Homo sapiens: one gene and its partner. The protein of the gene in region 1 purifies or fractionates together with the protein of each later gene. This does not show direct contact. Each region holds a gene or a part of one and is shown on either strand. Other genes may lie near its edges.

Region 1 (9,903 bases):
GTAGTAGAAAGAACTAGCATAAAACAGCACCTCAACCTACATTATAAACTCTCAGAAATATGCTCAGAGAGCAATAAACACTGCAGGAATCCCCTTACCCTGGACAACCTGCAGCTTTTTATGCAAGCCAGTTGCATTCCCCTAACAAGTCATAGAAATATGTAGTCACTAGTATCCAGCATACCCCCACCACACACAATTCACAGTATTGTTTCCATGTGCCCAACATCAGAGAGCAAAACCGAAAGAAACATCAATTTCTCCTACAACATACACACACAAATACGCAAGAAAAACCATTTCCTTTGCAGAACCTGTGTTGTCTAAGTTGTGGGCATGAAATGCACAAATATTAGTTGCTAATAAAAATCAGACGGTTAGCTCTGTACTGGAAAGCGAACAGCACACACATAAATCATAAAAAAACAATATCCCTAAGGTGCGTTCCTGATCAGTAAGCTGAAAACCAAACAAGGAGAGAAATGACTCAAAGTGTCCATTTGCATCCCTCTTTCTCATTACCTCAGACCAACAAGCTCTCTCTCCTGTGAGTTACCTCCCTGCACTTCTGTCCTCGATCAGAAGAGCCTCGTGGAAAAGGTCGCAGGCTCTCTCTTCTTTCCCTTCAGGATCTTGAGGCACTGAAGGAGCATGGGGGGAGGGGAACGGAAAGGACAAAGGTAGGCGCTTTCCATCCCTTTCGGCTTGGCGACGGGGCTCCCAGCCTCTCCCCCTCTCATCGCGGAAATAGAGCACCTGCCAGGGAGAGGTCGGTCCCTTCCACCTTAGTAATCGGCCCACAGGGCCTAGGTGTCCCAGGAGCCCAGGCGCTGCAGCCCTAGGGGACAAAGGGGAGGAGGAGGCGAAAGAAGTCGGGAATGGTACGAATCCCTTGCAAACAAAAGGGAGGGGGCAGAATACCAAGCCGGTCGCGGCTGTTCTCAGAGGTGGACAGGTTGGGTGGAGAAATGGGTGTCGGGGGAGGGGAAGATTTAGAAAATTCCTCTAGGGCAAGGGATTAGGGAGCTGCTTGGGGGCGCAGCAGCCAGCAGGAAGGGGGCTGAGGCAGGACAGAGGCCCTGGGGTGAGAAGGGGGCACAGCTCGCTGTGGGGGAGAGGTGATGGCTAAGAGGTGAAGGCCAGACTGGGCCCAGTGTAGGGTGAGGGGGCGCTGAGCCCCGCGCGGCGCTCCGAGGGGCCCTGAGGAGGGTCTCAGAAGGAGCCTGGGGGCACGCAACGAAGGCATTCGAGGGAGAGGGCAGAATTGGGGCACGCAGTGTTGGAAAAGAGGCTGAGAACAGAGCCGTAGAGAGGTTAGGGGGGACTGCGAGGGGGCCTGACCCCCGTCCGCCCCACCTCACCTGGCGCCGGGTCGGAGTCCAGATCTAGTGCTGAGAAAGCGCCAGCTCCGGCCAGTCCCTCCGTCCCGCGCGGGAGACCACGGACACAAAGCGGGGCGCGCGGGAGGAGGGGAGGAGAGAGGAGGGGGAAGGAGGGAGGAGGAGGAGACGCCTGAGGCGCGCGATGGGGGGAAGGAGGGGCGCCTGCCGCCCTCCTCCTGGGTCAGGGGGCGGGGCATGCGGCTGGAGGCCGCCCTCAGCCGGCCAATGGCCACTCCACTGGCCCGCAGGCTAGGGCGCGCCTTCCCGCGGCTCACCTCGGCACCTGGGCCTCGGTTGGCCCCAGCCAATCAAACGCCTTTATTTGCATGACCAGCCCCGCCCATTCGCCCCAGCCAAGGACTGCTCACTGAGAATACAAAGAAGGCCCCCCGGAGGGGAGGGAGTCGACTCCAGTTGGCCTATCCCAAGGGCATAGTATCACCTTTTCAGCGCGTTTATGGGTCTTTCACGGTCATCTTGATGAGGGGAGGGGAGTGGGGGTCACAGAGGTTTGGCCCAAGATCTCTTAAGAGGTCGGATCTCTTCTACCTGAGGTCCTTCTAACCAAGAGCTGCTCTCCTCTTCCAGGGCACACAGTTCCCAGTCTTCTCCTGTGGGCCCTCCGCCCCCTCCCCTTTTTCCAGTCGCCCTAATCTTTGGATGCTGCTTCCAGTAGGCTGCTGCCCACTACTGGCCTTCTCCTGCACTGCAGCCCACATCAGCAGGCTCTGAGCACAGCCTTAATTGATGCTTTCAAGCCGCCCAAACCAACCCCTACCCAGCAGGAAAAGGAGAGAGGAAGAGGTTACTGCTCTAGGTAGAAGGGACCTGGTCAAGTGGCTTTGTTACCTAGGATGGCAAAAAGCCAACACATAATATAAGTCTAACTCCCCCACATCATCTCTTCCCACCTTCCCTTCTCCTACCTTCAGGTCTGTACTGGGCCACAATGGTGACTGACTGGCCGGCCCGTTTCAGAGCAGCTGCAGCCTGCTCATGAGTTGCATTCCTCAGATTCACTCCATTCACCTGTCCAAAGAGAGAAGCTGTGAGCCACCCCAAAAGCAAGAAAGAGGGTCCTCTGCATTAGCAGTTAGGAGAGGGAGATGGGTACCCCACCCCTAAGCCTGTTTAGATGCCTTTCCCAATATTCCAACCTTGCCCCTAAAACAAGGCCTAAAGGATACGACATCTCTAGTGTAACAATTATCTTCATAAAGGTCAAATGCCAATCAGGGTTAAGATCCAATAGGCATTCATTTCCTCTTCAAAGATAAGTCTAGTCCCGGTCCCTGTCACTAAGGATGTCTATAAAAACAAGAGAAGTTTTCTCCAGTCCTTAGCCCTCCCTTCATCTCAAGAAGCATTCCTCGGAGGAAGTAAGGTCTCTCGCTCTCCATTTTAGACTGGCACAGTTCCCATCCTCCCACCTCTCCTTTGTCTCCTCACCGATAAGATCCGGTCTCCCCTGCGCAGCTCCCCACTCAGGTCAGCTGGGCCTCCTGCCAGGATGAAGGAGACAAAAATGCCTTCTCCATCCTCTCCTCCTACGATGTTGAAGCCCAGGCCTGTGGAGCCTTTGTGCAGGATGATCTTGCGAGGCTCTCTGGTGGGAAAGGAGTGGAGGAGTCAGGACTAGGTAGATATGGACTGTTGTCCTTTGAGGGCCAGCCTGGAACAAGGTCCATACTTGCTGTAGGGAGTAAGGACGTGGTTCCCTATGTATGATACCCTGAGCCTCCCTTTGTCTCCTGAAACCTGCTTGGCTGCTGTTCTGTCAGGTGCCAAGTTTCAGTTCCTCTTCCCTCCCTTCTTCCCGAGGGCTTGCAGTCAACTTCCCAGTGGACAGTCCCCTACTCTCTCGGGTGAACAAATCCCTACCCTGAACTCCAGAGACCAAATCTCAGGCCCACTCACTGGTCCTCTTCCTTCCCAGATTCTCCTATCCTACCAACCCGTGTGATGGACCCTGGACCACAAGAAGAGGAAGCAGTTAGGGGCAGTGGAGTCACCCTGGGGTTGACTGCACTCATCATCCACAGGATGTGCACACTTACTTCACAGACACTCTTCTGCAGTCTCAAAATCTCACCCATCAACTATGACCCCTCCTACCTGCTGCCCCAACAACATATTTAATCAGCAGCTAACACTATGTAGCCCCAGGGGGTTGCAGCGCCTGGGTTCTTAGGGGGATCCCAGGTCCCCAAAAGGAGTTTAGAATCCAAACTGAAGAGAGCAGACAAGCACATGAGAAATGCGAATAAAACTAACCACATCTAAGGAAGCCCTCTGTAAAAGGTCACAGTGTCATCCGCCCAACTCCCAGGGCACGTTCCCGGCCCACCGCCTTCACTTGTTACAAGCATCTTTCCTCGGAGGAGCCCAAAGCCCCACGCAAGACTCTTCCTTTCTTGCTCCCAGTCTCAGGGGCGAGACTCCCTCCCTGAGTCCCGGATGCTCTTGCTCCTAGCCCTCCACTCCTACCTGGCATCCCCTCCGGGCCGCAGGGAGCGGAGCGGCCAGGCCCACCTCTGCGAAGCCCTCCTCCAGGCCGAAGCGGAGGCGGAGCCCAAGCCCATGGCCAAGCCGGAGCCCGAGAACTTGCGGGCCCTCTCCATAGCTCCTCTCTCTCTCCCCTGGCTGCCTACCCTTCCGGCTCCACTGCTGCCTGCCCGCCAGCCTCTCGGGCCCCACCCTGCAAACCTGTCCCCCGGAACCCCAGCCGGCCCGACCAGTTCCAGGCCCCGCGCAGCCGCTGCCGCCGCCGCTGCCGCCAGCGGGGCGGGGCCGTTGCCGGCGAGGCCACCGGGCCGGTCAGAGTCCCGCCAGCCCCACCGGCTGAACTGCTTTCTTCTCTAATTTGAAATGGTTGCAGCAGAGCGGGCTGCAACTATCTCAGGGCAGGAAACTCCGCTGCCCTCGCCTCCTCAGCCCCCTAAACGCTCCACCCCATCCTTTCTTTATCTGCACTTTTGGACCGGGGCCACTCACTCGGCACTCCCCCTGATGGTAGAGCTTGTCCCTGCAGCCACTTCTGTCCCTCTCTAGGTCCCCAAGGCCTGAGAGAGGGCCTCGGACCCCAAAGCCGGGAGTGATGAGGGCCTTATCCTCTTCTTTGCCATACTACAAGGAGCCTGTGGCCGGCCAGAAACGGATTCCTCCCCTCCCCAATTTCTGGGTAGATTGAATGGGATGTTGGGGGCGGGGTCTTACCTGGTGAAGTCCTCCTCAGCCAGCATGTGCCTGGGAATAGGAGAGTAGCGGGTGGGGGGAACCTGAGGAGGAGCAGGGTAGCTGACCTTGCTCTCCACAGCCCCGAGATAACCCAGGCTGGAATTATGGCTTATGTGGTTGTCAGCCAAGGCAGTAAAAGCTGGAATCAAGAAAGGGAGAGAAAAGTTCAGAGACTGGTCCAGGGAGGTACCCCAAACTCCTCAAGGACTTTCCCCCACACCCCACTTCAGATGCAAAAGAGACCAAGGGATGCTGATTCCTCAGGCCGCACCTCCCCACTCCATCCACCCGCCACCCAGGGTTCCTCCTCCGCAGTCCCTTTCTAAATCCTTGGCTCACTCCTGTGAGTCTTAGAAAGAGCTGAAGTCAAGGCAGTCTACAAAGAAAGGCATGACTAGAGGTGTGACTAATAATAATCCCTCACATCTCTATAGCCTAATACAGTTTTCCAAGGGTTTTCTCATCCATGATCTCATTTGATCCTTGCAGCAGTCCTATGAGGAAGGCAGCACATACATCATTAGCTCCCTTTTGCCAAAGAGGAAACAAAAAACAGGTGAAAGGGACTTGTCTAAGGGCACCCAGCTCTAAGGGACAGAGCTGGGGGCCAGGCACGGTGGCTCAAGCCTGTAATCCCAGCACTTTGGGAGGCCGAGGTGGGTGGATCACGAGGTCAGGAGATCGAGACCATCCTTGCCAACATGGAGAAACCCCGTCTCTACTAAAAATACAAAAAATTAGCCAGGCATGGTGGCAGGCACCTGTAATCCCAGCTACTCGGGAGGCTGAGGCAGGAGAATTGCTTGAACCCAGGAGGTGGAGTTCGCAGTGAGCTGACATCGTGCCACTGCACTCCAGCCTGGCGACAGAGCAAGACTCCGTCTCAAACAAACAAACAAAAAAACAAAGACAGAACTGGGATCTGGACTCAGTTCTGTGCACTATCCTCTGCGGCTTCTCTCTCTCCTCTTTTTAAAATTCACTCTCCATAGAAATTGTCAAAAATTGCCAATGCTGACTCTATGGCAAGTCTTCACGATGGGGTACTGAGCAAAGTTTTCAATTAGCAATAATGGCGCCTCAGATAAACCTTATTGGCTGCTACAGTGCCACCACTGAGCAAAGCTGCTTGCCCTCTCTTAACAAAGGGTATGAACTTCTTCCCCTCCAGAAACCAGGGGACAGAGCTTTAGACCAGGGACAGGGGCTGATGAGTACGTACTGCTGGCGTAGTCAGGGGGAGCGTACATGTCGTTGAGGTGGAGGCTGCCTGGCTTGGCCACCTTCAAATACACCATATCAGATGTGTTCTTCAGTGAGGCCACAGCTTCCTCGTGCCTCACATCCTGCAGATTGGTGTTGTTCACCTAGAAGAGGAGAGGCCTCAGGCTGGGACTTGGAAGAAGGAGAGGCTTCTCCAGGGAACTCGAGGGATGCCTTTTCAGTGAAATTCAACAGCATGCTAACAAAGGCCCAAGTATAGTGCTGTGAGGAGCAGAGGCAGGAGGTAGGGGATAGGGCAAGACCCTGGCCACAGAAAGAATTAGGGCCTTTGTATCTGGGCAAACACAACACAGATGATAACTCTTGAAATTCCCCCATGATGCCTCATCCCTGAGTGAGGTTTAGGCGGAGTAAGGGGTACTGGAGCTCCTCCTCCCTACCCTACCATTTGGGCATCCCCATGAAGTCTGTCTCACCGCCAGCAGCCGGTCCCCAATCTGTAGGCGTCCATCCTTCTGAGCAGCACCCCCCTCAATGATCTTGGTGATGTAGATGCTGTTGTCTCCTGGGATGTGCTGGTTGCCAATACCCCCAGCAATGCTGAAACCCAGGCCTGAGCGGGAGCCAGCAGGAGGTGGGAGAGGGCCACAAGGAGAGGTTAAAGTGTTGTCGATCCCAAATCCAAACCCCCTCCCCCAGCCAACCCACTGGCCCCACAGGAGCTCCCCCCGGGGGATCCAAACGCTAAGCTGCCATCCTGAGATGAGTAAGGGTGAGGCCTGAGGTCAAAAAAGTAGGCTGTGAGTTGGAACAGGGGGAGTCAGGCAAGGAGTAAGGCCATTCCCTTCCAATTCCCTATGGGGCAAGATGGGATCTGGGGCCTAAGGCTCTGGCTGGAGCACAGGAACCTGGAGGGCCGCACCTTTGGGCCCTTTGAGCAGGTTGACCTCCATGATGGTCTCGGGTGGAGGCTGTCGCCTCCGCACCACCAATCGCACCACAGGGCCTGCCTCCTTCAGCGCCTCCACCGCCCGGCTGTGTACCACCTCCGACACGTCCACCTCATTCACCCGCAGCACACAGTCATTCACCCTGTGGGGGAAGCCCGAGAGGCATGACACTGTGCCCCTACCCCTCCACCCCCTCTCCTGCTTCCTCCCACTTCTCTGTCCTCCCCTCCTCTGCCCTCCCACCCCGCCCTCAGATCTAATGGAAGGGTCATCCTGCCAGGCAGGCTTTCCTCCCCTCATCTCGATCCTGTCCCTGCCACCCACAACCCTGCTTCCAGGCCATCTCACCCCAGCCTCCCATCCATGGCAGCTGCTCCACCAGGGATAATCTTGGTAATAAAGATGCCAGGGTCATCAGGGACATGGGGATTGTCGATGCCACCTGCGATACTGAAGCCCAGGCCAGAGTTGCCCTGCAGAAGTGGGTGGAAAGGCACAGTCTGTTCACTCTGAGGGCACAAAGGAGAGTTCTGGGTACCTCATCTCCCCTTATATCCCAGAGCTAGTTCTCCAGGCCTCAGAAGGGGCCATGGCAGGCTGGGCACATTTGTCAGACACCCAGCCTCTGCTGATCATTTTGGGAAACCCATCCCCTCCCCAATTCCCCAGGCCTCAGTGAGCAAGGTCAATTAATATTTGTTAGTGGGTTGATTGATTGATGCAGTGAAGCAGCCTCTGAGGGCCGCTGTTTCACCATCCTCTAAATGCAGGTCCCCCCATGGGTCTTGAAACCATGATTCAGGGGTCTCCCTTATCCTGGCTCCAACCCTCTCCTTCCCTTTCCGCTTTTCCCCACTGGCAGACTCACCCTCTCAAGTACGATTTCCTCATATTTGAACATGCCATCACTGCCATTCACCTAGGGGGAGACACAGGCAGTTCCCTTAGTGCCCCCTGCCCTTCCAGCCATCTGCCCCTTAGTCAACCTGCCTCCTCCCCTACTCCCACAGAGTAGAAGAGCCCAAGTGCACCCCAGGTCACCTCTTGGCCACAGATGAGGACAGGCTGACCTGGAAGAGGCCGCTCCTCACTCACCCCACCAATCCCTGCTTTGCTTCCAACCATATCAGCCCAAACCAAGCTGCTCATTTAGCCCAGATCAATTGTCTGAGACTGAGCCAGCCAGTGGTGCACTCACCGAGAGGCTGTGCTTCAGTGTCTCAGGGTTCACTAGGAGGGGTGCAGGCCTGGCCTAAGGGGGATGGCAGAGATGGAGCATGGCAGGCAAACCATGCCACACCCAGTGTCCATAGGGGATACCCAGTGGCCTAGACAGATAACCCTTCCCCTTCTGAACCACAGTTCTCCCTGACTGGGGGATCATAGACTCCCACTGTGTCCGAACTGGAAGGACAGCAGACATCATCTTGTCCTATCCCCTTTATGTGACAGTAGGTGACACGGAGGCCCAGAGAAGACATGGGATGTGCCTAAGGGCACACTGGGAATTAGTGACAGAGCAATAGGATATCCAGGTGTTCTTTTGATTACAGTAAGCTCTTAAGGCCACTGATGTTTTGGTCACTCATCCCCGTACCCCAGCAGAGCTCATGGGAAAAAGGACAGTTGCCCCACTTTGGAGCACCTCGTGAGTCTTCACTCTATACCTCTTTCTTGGACTCCAGGAACCCAATTCCTCAAATAGGCAGAAGGAGTCAAAGTCCTAATCCATTTTCTACCAAAGGATTTTTGATTCTGAGCCCTTTGTTTTTCCCAGCAGAAAGGGCGAGGGTGGGATCTGGTCAGGAGTCAGAGACAAAGCCACGGGTGGGACTGGAGCAGGGTAGACAAGATTCCCCATGAGGGAGAAGTTGGTGACCCACAGGCTGATTGGCAGCAGAGTCCATGGTTTTCAATATGTAGTAGCCATGCAAGAAGAGGCAAGGGAAGGGGTCAGAAACACAGGGGTGATTTGGCCAACCCACAGAGATGGCCTCCCAGACAGGACATGTGTGTATCTATTTGTCAAGTGAAAATGTGATTCTGGACATACAAGCAGCACCTGCCTGCTGGCTCCCACTTTCACCTCCAAGAATGGAGAAGCCCTCTTGCCTGTCTCCCCAGGTACCCTGGCACCCCTCCCCCACCTTTCTCTGGCTATGTTGTCCCTTCCCTGACCTCTAGCCTCCTCCTCAGAAGTGGGGAGCTGGAAACCAGGGTGGGGGCTCCTCCACATGTCCTGCTGTGCTTCCCCCGTCCCACCTCCACCCCACACAGCTTTGGCTTCAAGAAGCAGAGAGGAGGAGAGGGAGAGAGGACTAGCTCATCATGCCTCCACCATTTCTGGGCTGGCTCTGCAGCTGTGGGAGTTGGTGGGAGGACTCCAGCTACAGCCTTACCCTGGTCTGTGACCCCAGGAAGAAGAACTGAAGGCTCCTTAGAGACCCGAAACCAACACAGCTGCCTTAAGTACCATGCAACAGACACATAAGCAAAGGGACACCCATGTGGCTCTTGTGTGCATTTGGTGTACCATGTGTGCCCACATGTGACAAGCCATGCCTCAAGCCCAGCCCCAGTGGTACCCAGAGGCTTCCCGTTCCCAGTGGTCCACGCTCTAGCCCCCACCCCTACTCAAGGACCTTGTTCTCAGGGCCAGGAGCCATCCAGGGATCAGCCCTGGCAAAGAAACCTTGGCCAACTGGCCCAGCCTGGGATTGCCACCTGTCTCCCAGCCGGGCAGGACAAGCATAAGAGGGTGTTTGCGAGAGAAAGGCCTCCAGGACAGAGAGGGGGCAAAGGAGAGAGAGGGACTCGCTGGAAAGGGCAAGAGGCCAAGGCAAGGGATGTGGGAAAGCAGTAAGTGTGGACAGACAGAAGGCCAGAACTGAGGGCTCTTCTCCCCAGGAAGTCCCCACCTTTGCCTCTGAGTGAGAGCACATCCTATCCCCAGAGGACAGAGGCAGCCAGAACGGTCACCAGCTTGGGGAAGTCATCACCTGCCCTCGACAGCAAAGCCTCCTCTTCCTCTCTCCCCACCCTAGGAGCTGCAGAGCCGGATAACCAGACAGGCCCTCCGCCTTGCGTGCCAGGGACCTGGCTCTGCCAGC
Region 2 (9,903 bases), on another chromosome or scaffold:
AGTTCGAGACCAGCCTGGCCAACATGGTGAAGCCCCGTCTCTACTAAAAATAAAAAAAATAGCCAGATGTGGTGGCAGGCGCCTATAATCCCAGGTACTCAGGAGGCTGAGGCAGGAGAATTGCTTGAACCTGGGAGGCGGAGCTTGCAGTGAGCCGAGATTGCGCGTATATTAAGAACTGTAACTGGCTAACAGAATAATCTTGGACTTTCTCTTATTTCATCTTCAACAATTTAGACAGATGTCACCACTTTACAGATCAGCCAGGTTGTGCCTAGCCTATGTTATACCAAGAGCTGAAATTCTAACTCAGTCAGGTCTGACTCCATAATGTGTGTTCTTCCTACTATACCTCAAGCTTGCCTGATATGGAAAAGAATGGAAATTAAAGAAGTAACAAGGACAGCCCTGTGACCACCTGTTCCACATCTGGGTACACACTTAGTATTCCGAATCATTGCAGCAAGCATCAACAAAGCCAGTCCTCCTTCAGTGCATGCACTATTAGTAGGGATGCAAGCAGGCAGGGTTAGGGTGGCCAGTTAGTAACAGGCATGAGTGCACAAATATGATCATCAAGTAGCAAAAATGCATTGGCCAATCAGGTGCCTTTTCCTTACCATTAAATATTCCAATCTCAGTTCTTACTGAATATGGCAGGTCATACATCTAAATTATTTAATAAAATGTTTAAATTAGAATACTCTTTGCTAAAATCTATTACTTCAAAAATAGCAAGATGTAAACTCTTTTACATGGGAATTAAAACTCTTACTGCTCTCTAGAGTCACAATTAACAGGAGACTCAAAATGATGCCAGAATGCCGGCATCCTCCAGTGCTGGTGCTGAGCTGTGAGAAGTTGGCTGCCAAACCTGCTTGGCAGCAATAATCTCCCCCCAAGAGTTTATCTTAATCCCATTAGCCTTAACCCAACTCTTTAAAACTCTAACTTAATCCAATTCTAAAGGAATAACCTGTTTTCAGGAATTTGTCCATCTAAAGTTTTCTAAGTGAAAACATTATGTCATAATAAAGGACCATCCTGTCCAAGGAAGTTATATATTTTTTCCTCCTTGAAAAACCCAATGGCTACATCCAAGAATGGTTAATAGCAGTATGATCAATACTAGCAGATTAAAAAATTCTAAATGTTGGCCTTCTGTGTACTTTCAGTGGGAGGCCAGGGGATTTTAAGATAGTACAGGTTAATTCTGTAATACAAAGATAACTCTGGTAACCTGGAATTTCTTGAGTTAGGAGAATTCATAGCATAGACCGGTTTTTAAATAGCTAGTATCTTCGGGAAACACATTTTTAATGTAAAATTTCACTTATCTAATAATTACAGGCAGTATATTACAGTGTTGTAGCAGATCAGTAAACTAAACTTGTGGAATAAATACACCCCGGGTAACAATGGTATTAAAAAATAGGCATAATTCTGGTTTGCAATCTTTCATTTAAATAAAAGGAAATATCTGATAATAACATTTTGGTGTGTCACAAGCATGAAATTGTGGAATCGCACCCGGGCCTCCTCCCTGTTTTGAAGGCTACACTCTGGTTTTCCACTTACGGTTCCTACAGAAAGTCTTACTCAGACCTAAGCTGTGAGCACTCTGGCTAAGGGGCCCACAGTAGGCCTAAGGCTCAGGCCAGCTGATTAAAGCAGCTGTACATATGATGAGGGCCTTATGCTGTCCACATGTAGACCCAGCGGCAGACTTAGATGAGCTCACAGTGCCTTTTAAAAAGCTCATATGGTTTAATAAAGCAAAACGTAAGCATGCTAGGATGCAAAGGAATTTAAAATAATTCAGTGTAGGGTATTTGGCGGAAGATTTTTTTTAATTTTTTGGTCTTGAGAATTTAAAATATCAAATTAAGAAGCTCCATGCAGTTAACTTGCACTTAAAATACAAAAATTTAAAATTAAAGCTCAAGACACAAAGGACACAATTTCCTCCCGTGCTGACTGCACCTGGGTCCTCTTTGGTTGGATGCTGGTGAGCCCATCAGTGACAGGTAAATCACACTGGGAAGAGTAGACTGCTGCTAAGAGGCTCACCAAAAAGATAGAAGATATTCCTTTTTTTTTTTTTTTTTAAAAAGAGGCAGGGTCTCACTCTGTCATGCAGGCTGGACTGCAGTGTGCAGTGACACAATCACTACCCACTGCAGTCTCGAACTCCTGAGCTCAAGCAATCCTCTTGCCTCAGCCACTCAAAGTACTGGGATTAGAGGCACGAGCCACTGTGCTTGGCCCCTAAGAAAGAAGATACTCTTCAAGAGCAGCTTGAAATCAGGCTCTTGATCTACTGACATCTACTCCTCGAATTTGAAGCACTGCAGCTCAAAGTGCTTCTGATAAAAATAAAGAAATGTCAATATGCTACAGAATGGATGGCCTATTGGCTGTCAGGGCACACGGTCAAACGGCTGCTCCTGAGCACATGGTCAAAAGCACATATGCAAAACACGGCTAAGCAGGAGCATTTGGAGCTGTGGGGCGAGCTATGGGGCAAGCTGCTCGGGGCCATTACAGACCTTAGTCCTGGAAACCTTCCCCACCTGTGAGGGCACTAGGAAGGGCATCTATTGGGAAACAAAACAAACAAACCAACATGGCTTTGTTGTTTTCAAAATAAAAGCTCTGATGGCATCAGAAAAAAAGTTATTAACCATTTATAACATGTGCAAATTATGTATTATATTCCTGAAAAAAGTTATCAAAAGCTGTTAGAATCAGTTAACCGTCACCCTTTGGGTTAATGGAAACCTTGGCACATTTTTAGCTGCAAAGTCACTCAATATGGTTGGAAAGCCCAGAGGTGTATTTCAGCTTCTTTTCCGAAAGTGCCTCCACTTAGAACAATTTAAACTAGGCTGCTGTAAGAAATTATTTGAGGCCCCTAATTACCATTTTTAAAAACACACTAGAAACCCCCATATTCATCCTTAAATTAAATAATAAATTAGAGCATTTGGGATGGAAATATTCTTGAAATGTTAAATAAAATGGTCATGTTCTAGACTATTAAAAATATGCCATTAGGTAGCCCACTAAAACCTGTACAATCACCACCACTTCCAAACAGGTTCCCACTGGGTCTACAGGAAAATCTTGATTCTTCCCTCCCAAGCCATTAGAACATGACAGTGCCCTGAGATCTCCCTTCTGGAGCATTCAATTTGGCATAAATCATGTTTTTTAAAGTTATACCTGAAATTCTGTACTTAATATGAACACTTTTACTCTTAGAAGTACTGTTTAAGCATTTTAATGAGGAATTCACTAAGAAATAAAGTTCATGCTCGTGTTGTAAAATACCTTCCACCTGGAATAAAAGCCATTATGTTGAGAAAAATGTAAACGTACATAGGTCTTAAACACACAAGCAACTATAAGTCAGGGGTCGGCAAACTTAAAGGACCAGGCAGTAAATGTTTCCAACTTTGTGGGCCACAGGATCTTTGGTCACGACTACCCAGCTCTGCTGTTTCAGCACCAATGCAGCCACAGACAATATGTTAACAAATGGGTGTAGCTGTGTTCCAATAAAACTTTAATGACAAAAACTGGCTGCAGGACAGGTTTGGTTTGGCTTGCGGGTGTAGTTTGCTGACACCTGGCATAAATCAAAGCTTAAATAAAATGTAGTAGTACAAAAGCAATGTAGAGCAGACGAGGAAATACGGGCATTGATGTCCTACTTACCTGTTACTATCTTGGAAGCTGTTGGTGCTGTGTTGGTGAGGCTGCTGTCCCCAGCTGAGTGGACACCAGGAGGTTGGGGGGGTGGGGGCACGCTGGGCCGGTTCCTTGGCTTTGGTACTGGTCTCGGTCTCGGTAAGGTTCCAGCATGTGGCTGTGCAGTTTCAGGGTTACCCCCTGCCAGGGTCTGAGGAGCTGGCAGACTGGGGTTCTGTTTTCCTAGGGGCGGAGTACTGGGGGGCGTTGGAGTCTGGGGAGGGGTGTGAGATGGCTGCTCAAGTCCATGCTCACTGGGCAATGCCATGGGGTTGGGAGGGCCCTGGCTATTGGGTTTGGTGTGCATCAGTGGCGTGGCCTGCGTAGGGGGCTGCGGCGGTGGGTGATTGGGAGCTTGGATTGGAGACAAGCTGCTGGAGTACCTCCGGGGTGCTGAGAGCTGGGAGGGGGCGGAGGGCTGGCCTGGAGGCTGGCCCGTGTGCTGGGTGGGAGGAGAGGGGCTTCGGGTGGGTGGCTTTGGTGACAGACTGGGTGGATGCTGAGATGTTCCTGAAGAACTCTGGCCCCCGGGGTGGCCAGGAGGTGGGTTGCCCGGTTTCGGGGGTGCTGGAGCGGGTTTTTTAACAGCTGCACAAAAAGAGAAAAAACACCTTTCAGTAGGAACAGTGAGGCAGCAACCAACCCTGGCCAGGAGCCCAAATTTAACATCACCAGTAATAAGGTACACCAGCATCATGTACCTCTGATGAGAGGTGGTCAGGAGGGCACCACACTGTGTCTTCCTCCCCAAAGCCCATAACCCATCAGAAGAACATCTGACAAACACAAATTGAAGGCCTTTCTTCAAAATGCCTGACCAGTACTCTCCAAAACCATCAAGGCCATAGAAAAGCACAGAAAGACGGAGAACATGTCACAGACAGCAGGAGACGAAGAAGATACGATGACTACATATAATGTGGGCTCCTGGATGAGATCCTGGGACAGAAAATGGACATGAGTGGAAAAACTAGGGAAATCTGAACAAAATGTGGAGTCTAGTTAATGGTAATGAACCGCAAGGTGCAGTGGCTCACGCCTGTGATCTCAGCACTTTGGGAGGCCAAAGCAGGCGGATCACTTGAGTGCAGGAGTTCAAGGCCAGCCTGAGCAACGTGGCAAAACCCCATCTCTACAAAAAACTACAAAAATTAGCCGGGCGTGGTGGCATGCGCCTGTAATCCCAGCTACTCATGAGGCTGAGGTGGGAGGATCCCATGAGCCTGGGAAGTCCAAGGCTGCAGTGATCACACCACTGAATTCCAGCCTGGGCAACAGAGTGAGACCATTTCAAAAAAAAAAAAAAAGTTGGGGGGGATGGGGGGACTAGCCCAATGTTGACTTCTGAGCTGGGGTAAATGTGCCATGGTCATGTAACACATTAACAACAGGGGAAACTGAGTAAGGGGCATATGGGAACTCTCAGCATTATCTTTGCAACTTTTCTATAAATTCAAAATTACTCCAAACAAACAAGTTTATTTTAAAAATTAAGTACATTATGCACATTTGAAAGGGCTTTAAAGGCCTATCGTTTTGAAAGTTCAATAAGAAGAAAACTGTTAACAGAGGCCACCCCAATGACACGGAAGTGCTGCCCTCAGCCCACTTAGCAGCCTCCTCATTAGGGCCCCATGGGAAGACGCAGAAAGAGGCAGAACAGCCAGGAGGGACCACCAAGCATGACTAGTTCACCCTGATATAACATGACCCCTGATCCCAAGCCACCTTCTCCTTGAGAGTTTGATTGGTTTGATTGGTCTTAATAACAGAATTTCTACCAATTCCGCAACCATTTGAGTTAATAGATATGTCCTGGACAAAAGCATGAATAAATCTGGAAGAGTTGCCTTAGAATTATTTCTCTAAAGAGAGCTGAATCACATCACTCTCCTCCCTACACCAGCTGAGATCAGGGATAGGAACCTGGGACTGATGAGGGCAGGAGGGAAAACAACAGATCTGGGGCTCTGGTTTTGGGCTGGGAGGGGTAGGGGGAAAGGAGAGATTTTAGCCTTTTTCAAACTCTGCTAAGATCCTACTGGTTCTCTAAGAAAGAAGGAGAAGGAAATGAAGGAAAGAAATGAACATGTATCACTCTTATCACCAGTACCAAGTAAGGCCTTTTATATAAATTATGCACATTATAATTTATATAAATTATCTCATTCAAGTTTCATAAGCTCATTGCAGGGCAAGCTCTGTTATCCCCATTTTCACAGAGAAGAAAACTGAGGCTTGAAGAGGGCCAGTGTTTGGTAATAGGTCACACAGCTAGTAAGGGGCAGAACTGAGACTCCTGCCCATGACATGTGGACTCCCTGAATGCTTTTTCCTCTTCCTCCTTCCCCTATTCCCCGGCTGCCTGTTTACAGGGCCCAGAATTCAGGATTGAAAAGGGTAAAGTCTCGGTGGCTCATGCCTGTATTCCCAGCACTCTGACTGGCTGAGGCAGGAAGATCACTCAAGACCAGCCTGGGCAACACAGTGAGACCCCGACTCTACAAAAAAATAAAGCAGCCAGGCATGGTGGCATGTGCCTGTAGTACCAGCACTTTGAGAGGCCAAAGTGGGAGGATCACTTGAGTCCAGTGGCTGGAGGATGCAGTGAGCTATTATCACGCCACTGCATTCCAGCATGGGTGAGAAAACGAGACCCTGCCTCTAAAAAACATAAGAAAGGAAAAAAAAAAAGAAAAAAGGGTAAAGTCTACTCTGCTACACTGGTCTGGAACTTTCAACCCTGGAACTCAGAAACCACCAACCAGCTTACATTAGCTGTACTCCAGACTGCCATCGGCATTTAAAAAAAAAGTCTAGTTTTCTGTTCTAAGCAATACTAATTGTAAAGTCATACTGAATAAAAGCTCGTTCCTGAAATTTAAGGGTGTGAAGAGGATGGGGAGAGGGAGCGTGGGAGCAAAGTGTCAGGGGGAGGGGGCTGGGAGAAATGGAGGCCTTGTCTGAGACCACCTCAGAGGCGCAGGGGGTGGGGAAGGAAAAAAGAATCAAACCCATCCTGCGAAGAAGCCTGGGAGCTGTGATTTCGGGAAGCATGAAAGACTCTGAATGCGGCTATAAGGAAAAGAGTCTTCTTAATCCAAAACCAGAGTCACACCTGGAATCTAGGTCCAGAAGACTAACTTCCCTCAAGGATCAGCTGAGATCCTGATAAGATGACAGGGCCCAGAGAGGCAGCCTGAAGAAGAATAAAGTGGGGGTCTGCAACCAAGCAGTGGACTCGGATTTGCCTCCCTGCCTATGATTTGTAGAAATTCCACTAACATTTGTGTAGTGCTTTGTAAAGACCATGCTTCTATAGACAGACACAGTGAATTTAATCCATTTTTTTTTCTTTTTTCGGGACAGAGTCTTGCTCTGTTGGCCAGGCTGGGGTGCAGTGGCACAATCTTGGCTCACTGCAACCTCTGCCTCCCAGGTTCAAGCAATTCTCCTGCCTCAGCCTCTTGAGTAGCTGGGACCACAGGCGTGCAAGCACCATGCCCGGCTAATTTTTGTATTTTTAGTAGAGATGGGGTTTCACCATGTTGGCCAGGCTTGAACTCCTGGCTCAAGTGATCCACCCACCCCGGCCTCCCAAAGTGCTGGGATTACTGGTGTGAGCCACTGCGCCTGGCCTCTCTTTTTTATTTTAGAGATGGGGTCTCACTCTGTTGTCCAGGCTGGAGTGCGGTGGTGCAATCATAGCTCACTGCAGGCTCGACCTCCTGGGCTCAAGTGATCCTCCTGCCTCAGCCTCCTGAGTAGCTGGGACTATAGGTGTGTGTCACCACACCCAGATAATTTTTAAAATTTTTTTTGTAGAGGTGGGCTCTCACTATGTTGACCAGATTGGTCTCCAACTCCTGGCCTCAAGCGATCTTCCTGCCTCAGCCTCCCAAAGTGCTGGGATTATAGGTGTGAGCCACCACGCCCAGCTGGAAGAAGTGATTTTTGAGGTGAGACCTGAATGGTAAGAAGAAACCATGTGAAGATATGGGACAGAATGTTCTGGAAGCCCTAAGGAGGGGATGAACTTAGTTCATTCAAGGAACCAAGAGTGGAGTGTGTTGAGAGGAGGGAGTGTAAGCTCTGGGCTCAGAGGTAGGCCCCACCAAAGCACAGAGAACCCAGGGTGAGAAGTTCGCATGGAAGCCACTGAAGAGTTTAACCAAGAGACGACATGATCTGCTTGGAGTTTTAAAGCAATTCCCCTGGCTGCTGGGTGGAGGACTGCAGGGAAGACAGGTGGGAGCAGTTCAGATTCTGTTAATCAGGACCTAGAAAGCCTTCACCCCAATTCCGAAGCAAAAGTGCCTCCCAGACCCACAAAGCTGAGAAGTACAGAGGCTGTGGTAGTCTCCAAACAGAGCGAGGGCTTGGGACACCAGGAAAACTGGGAGCATTTCTGCAGAACTGACTGTTTGTTAAGCTTTGTCACGCCTAAGGAAAAACTAAATGTCTGCTTTTCTGTTCTCTATTTTTTCCTTTTTCTTTAATGACTTTTCTCTTGAATGACTGAATTTTCTGCTTGGGATTTTACAACAGACATAGAAAAGATCTGGCCACAAACCTCACCATCTGAATCCTTGCACTAACTTAAGGAGGTCTGCACAGGCTTCCCTGAGGGCAAGGAGGACGGTGGCTGCTTACCTCGGCGCAGTGTATGCGGGCTGGGCCCTGCAGCATTGTGAGGTTGGCCCATGGAGAGCTGGTGGGAGCCAGCAGCTGCCTGGGGCTGATTTTGGCCAGATGCTATCTGACTGTTGTTTCTCCCTGGTGCTGGCACAGCTGCAGATACAGGGTCCTTCGGTTTGGGAGGACTAAGAGGAGTAAAAGTCAAGTTAGACGTCAGACAATCCCAGCTAGAAAATCTGAACATACTGCACATAAAACATAAGATTCCAAGCAGAGTTTTCACTTCGGCAGGCAGGAAAAGGATCTGAAATTCTAACTAGCTCACACTGGGCTTATAAAGCTAATGTTTACTTGGTGCCATATAAAGAGCTAATGTTTACTTGGTGCCATTTTTTTTTTAAGAGATGAGGTCTTGCTATGTTGCCCAGGTTGGTCTCAAATTTCTGGACTCAAGCAATCCTCTCCTGCCTCAGCACCCTGAGTAGCCGGGACTATAGGACTATTTATTTTATGAGATTCGTTGCATCAGACTGGACTCCAACGACTCTGCCACTCCAGTATCATCAGAGAGACCATTTCAAAGCAACCAATGCGGAGTTTTCAGTTCTACTGCGTTTGGACTTAAATTGGGCAGTACTTAATACCATGAAATGGCTTTTACATGTTGACATATACACTGTACAAAACTAAGCAAAAGCCATGGCAAAATAAGACCCTAAATGATAAAGGGCTTGATTATTATCAATAACTTGGACTGAAGAAGGAGAACTCAGAGGCTAAATGACTACTCGAAGTCCAGAGTTGGTAGCAGCAGGATAGAGATCAGAATTCAGGCTTCCTGTTTCCTGGCCCAGAACTTTTTATACCAAACTCTGTAGCTCCATTTTGTCAAGGTCACCAAAGAGTGAATAACATTAGTGTAATGTACATAAAAATACCTACAGAATACAGTATAAAAAACAAACAGCAGGCCAGGCACAGTGACTCACGCCTGTAACGCCAGCACTTTGGGAGGCTGAGGCACATGGATCACTTGAGGTCAGGAGTTCAAGACCAGCCTGGCCAACAAGGTGAAACCCCGTCTCTACTAAAAATACAAATATTAGCCAGGCGTGGTGGCGCATGCCTGTAGTCCCAGCTACTCTGGAGGCTGAGGTGGGAGAATCGCTTGAACCCAGGAGGTGGAGGTTGCCGTGAGTCAAGATCATGCCACTGCACTCCAGCCTGGCTGACAGAGCGAGATGCTGTCTCAAAAAAAAAAAAAGCAAAGTAACTGACATTCCATTTGTCCTTCTGCATTAAGACTAATTATTGTCTTAAATAATACATTTAGCCTTGATTAAACAAATGGAATGTCACAAGGAAATGAAAATATGTAAATTGGCTGGGCATGGTGGCTCATGCCTGTAATCCCAGCACTTTGGGAGGTTAGGGAGGGAGGACTGCTTGAGACCAGGATTGAAGACCAGCCTGGGCAACACAGTGAGACCTCGTCTCTACAAAAATTTAAAA

The links.
Region 2: the proteins of DLG3 (region 1) and ARHGAP17 purify together in Homo sapiens (co-immunoprecipitation; 2 studies listed by BioGRID and IntAct, with this or other methods). This does not show direct contact.

Annotation. Positions count from the first base shown.
Region 1 is NC_000023.11:70,446,722-70,456,624, reverse strand, and holds part of DLG3 (disks large homolog 3), read right to left. Parts: intron 7,713-9,903; coding exon 7,662-7,712; intron 7,267-7,661; coding exon 7,142-7,266; intron 6,936-7,141; coding exon 6,766-6,935; intron 6,457-6,765; coding exon 6,320-6,456; intron 5,987-6,319; coding exon 5,842-5,986; intron 4,759-5,841; coding exon 4,599-4,758; intron 4,334-4,598; exon of another isoform or gene 4,004-4,333; coding exon of another isoform or gene 3,870-4,003; intron 3,670-3,869; exon of another isoform or gene 3,319-3,669; intron 2,989-3,318; coding exon 2,832-2,988; intron 2,412-2,831; coding exon 2,309-2,411; intron 1,449-2,308; exon of another isoform or gene 1,362-1,448; intron 882-1,361; exon of another isoform or gene 523-881; intron 1-522. UniProt on the Homo sapiens protein: Required for learning most likely through its role in synaptic plasticity following NMDA receptor signaling.
Region 2 is NC_000016.10:24,927,064-24,936,966, forward strand, and holds part of ARHGAP17 (rho GTPase-activating protein 17), read right to left. Parts: intron 8,577-9,903; coding exon 8,407-8,576; intron 4,342-8,406; coding exon 3,721-4,341; intron 2,598-3,720; coding exon of another isoform or gene 2,551-2,597; exon of another isoform or gene 2,550-2,550; intron 670-2,549; coding exon of another isoform or gene 662-669; exon of another isoform or gene 621-661; intron 1-620. UniProt on the Homo sapiens protein: Rho GTPase-activating protein involved in the maintenance of tight junction by regulating the activity of CDC42, thereby playing a central role in apical polarity of epithelial cells.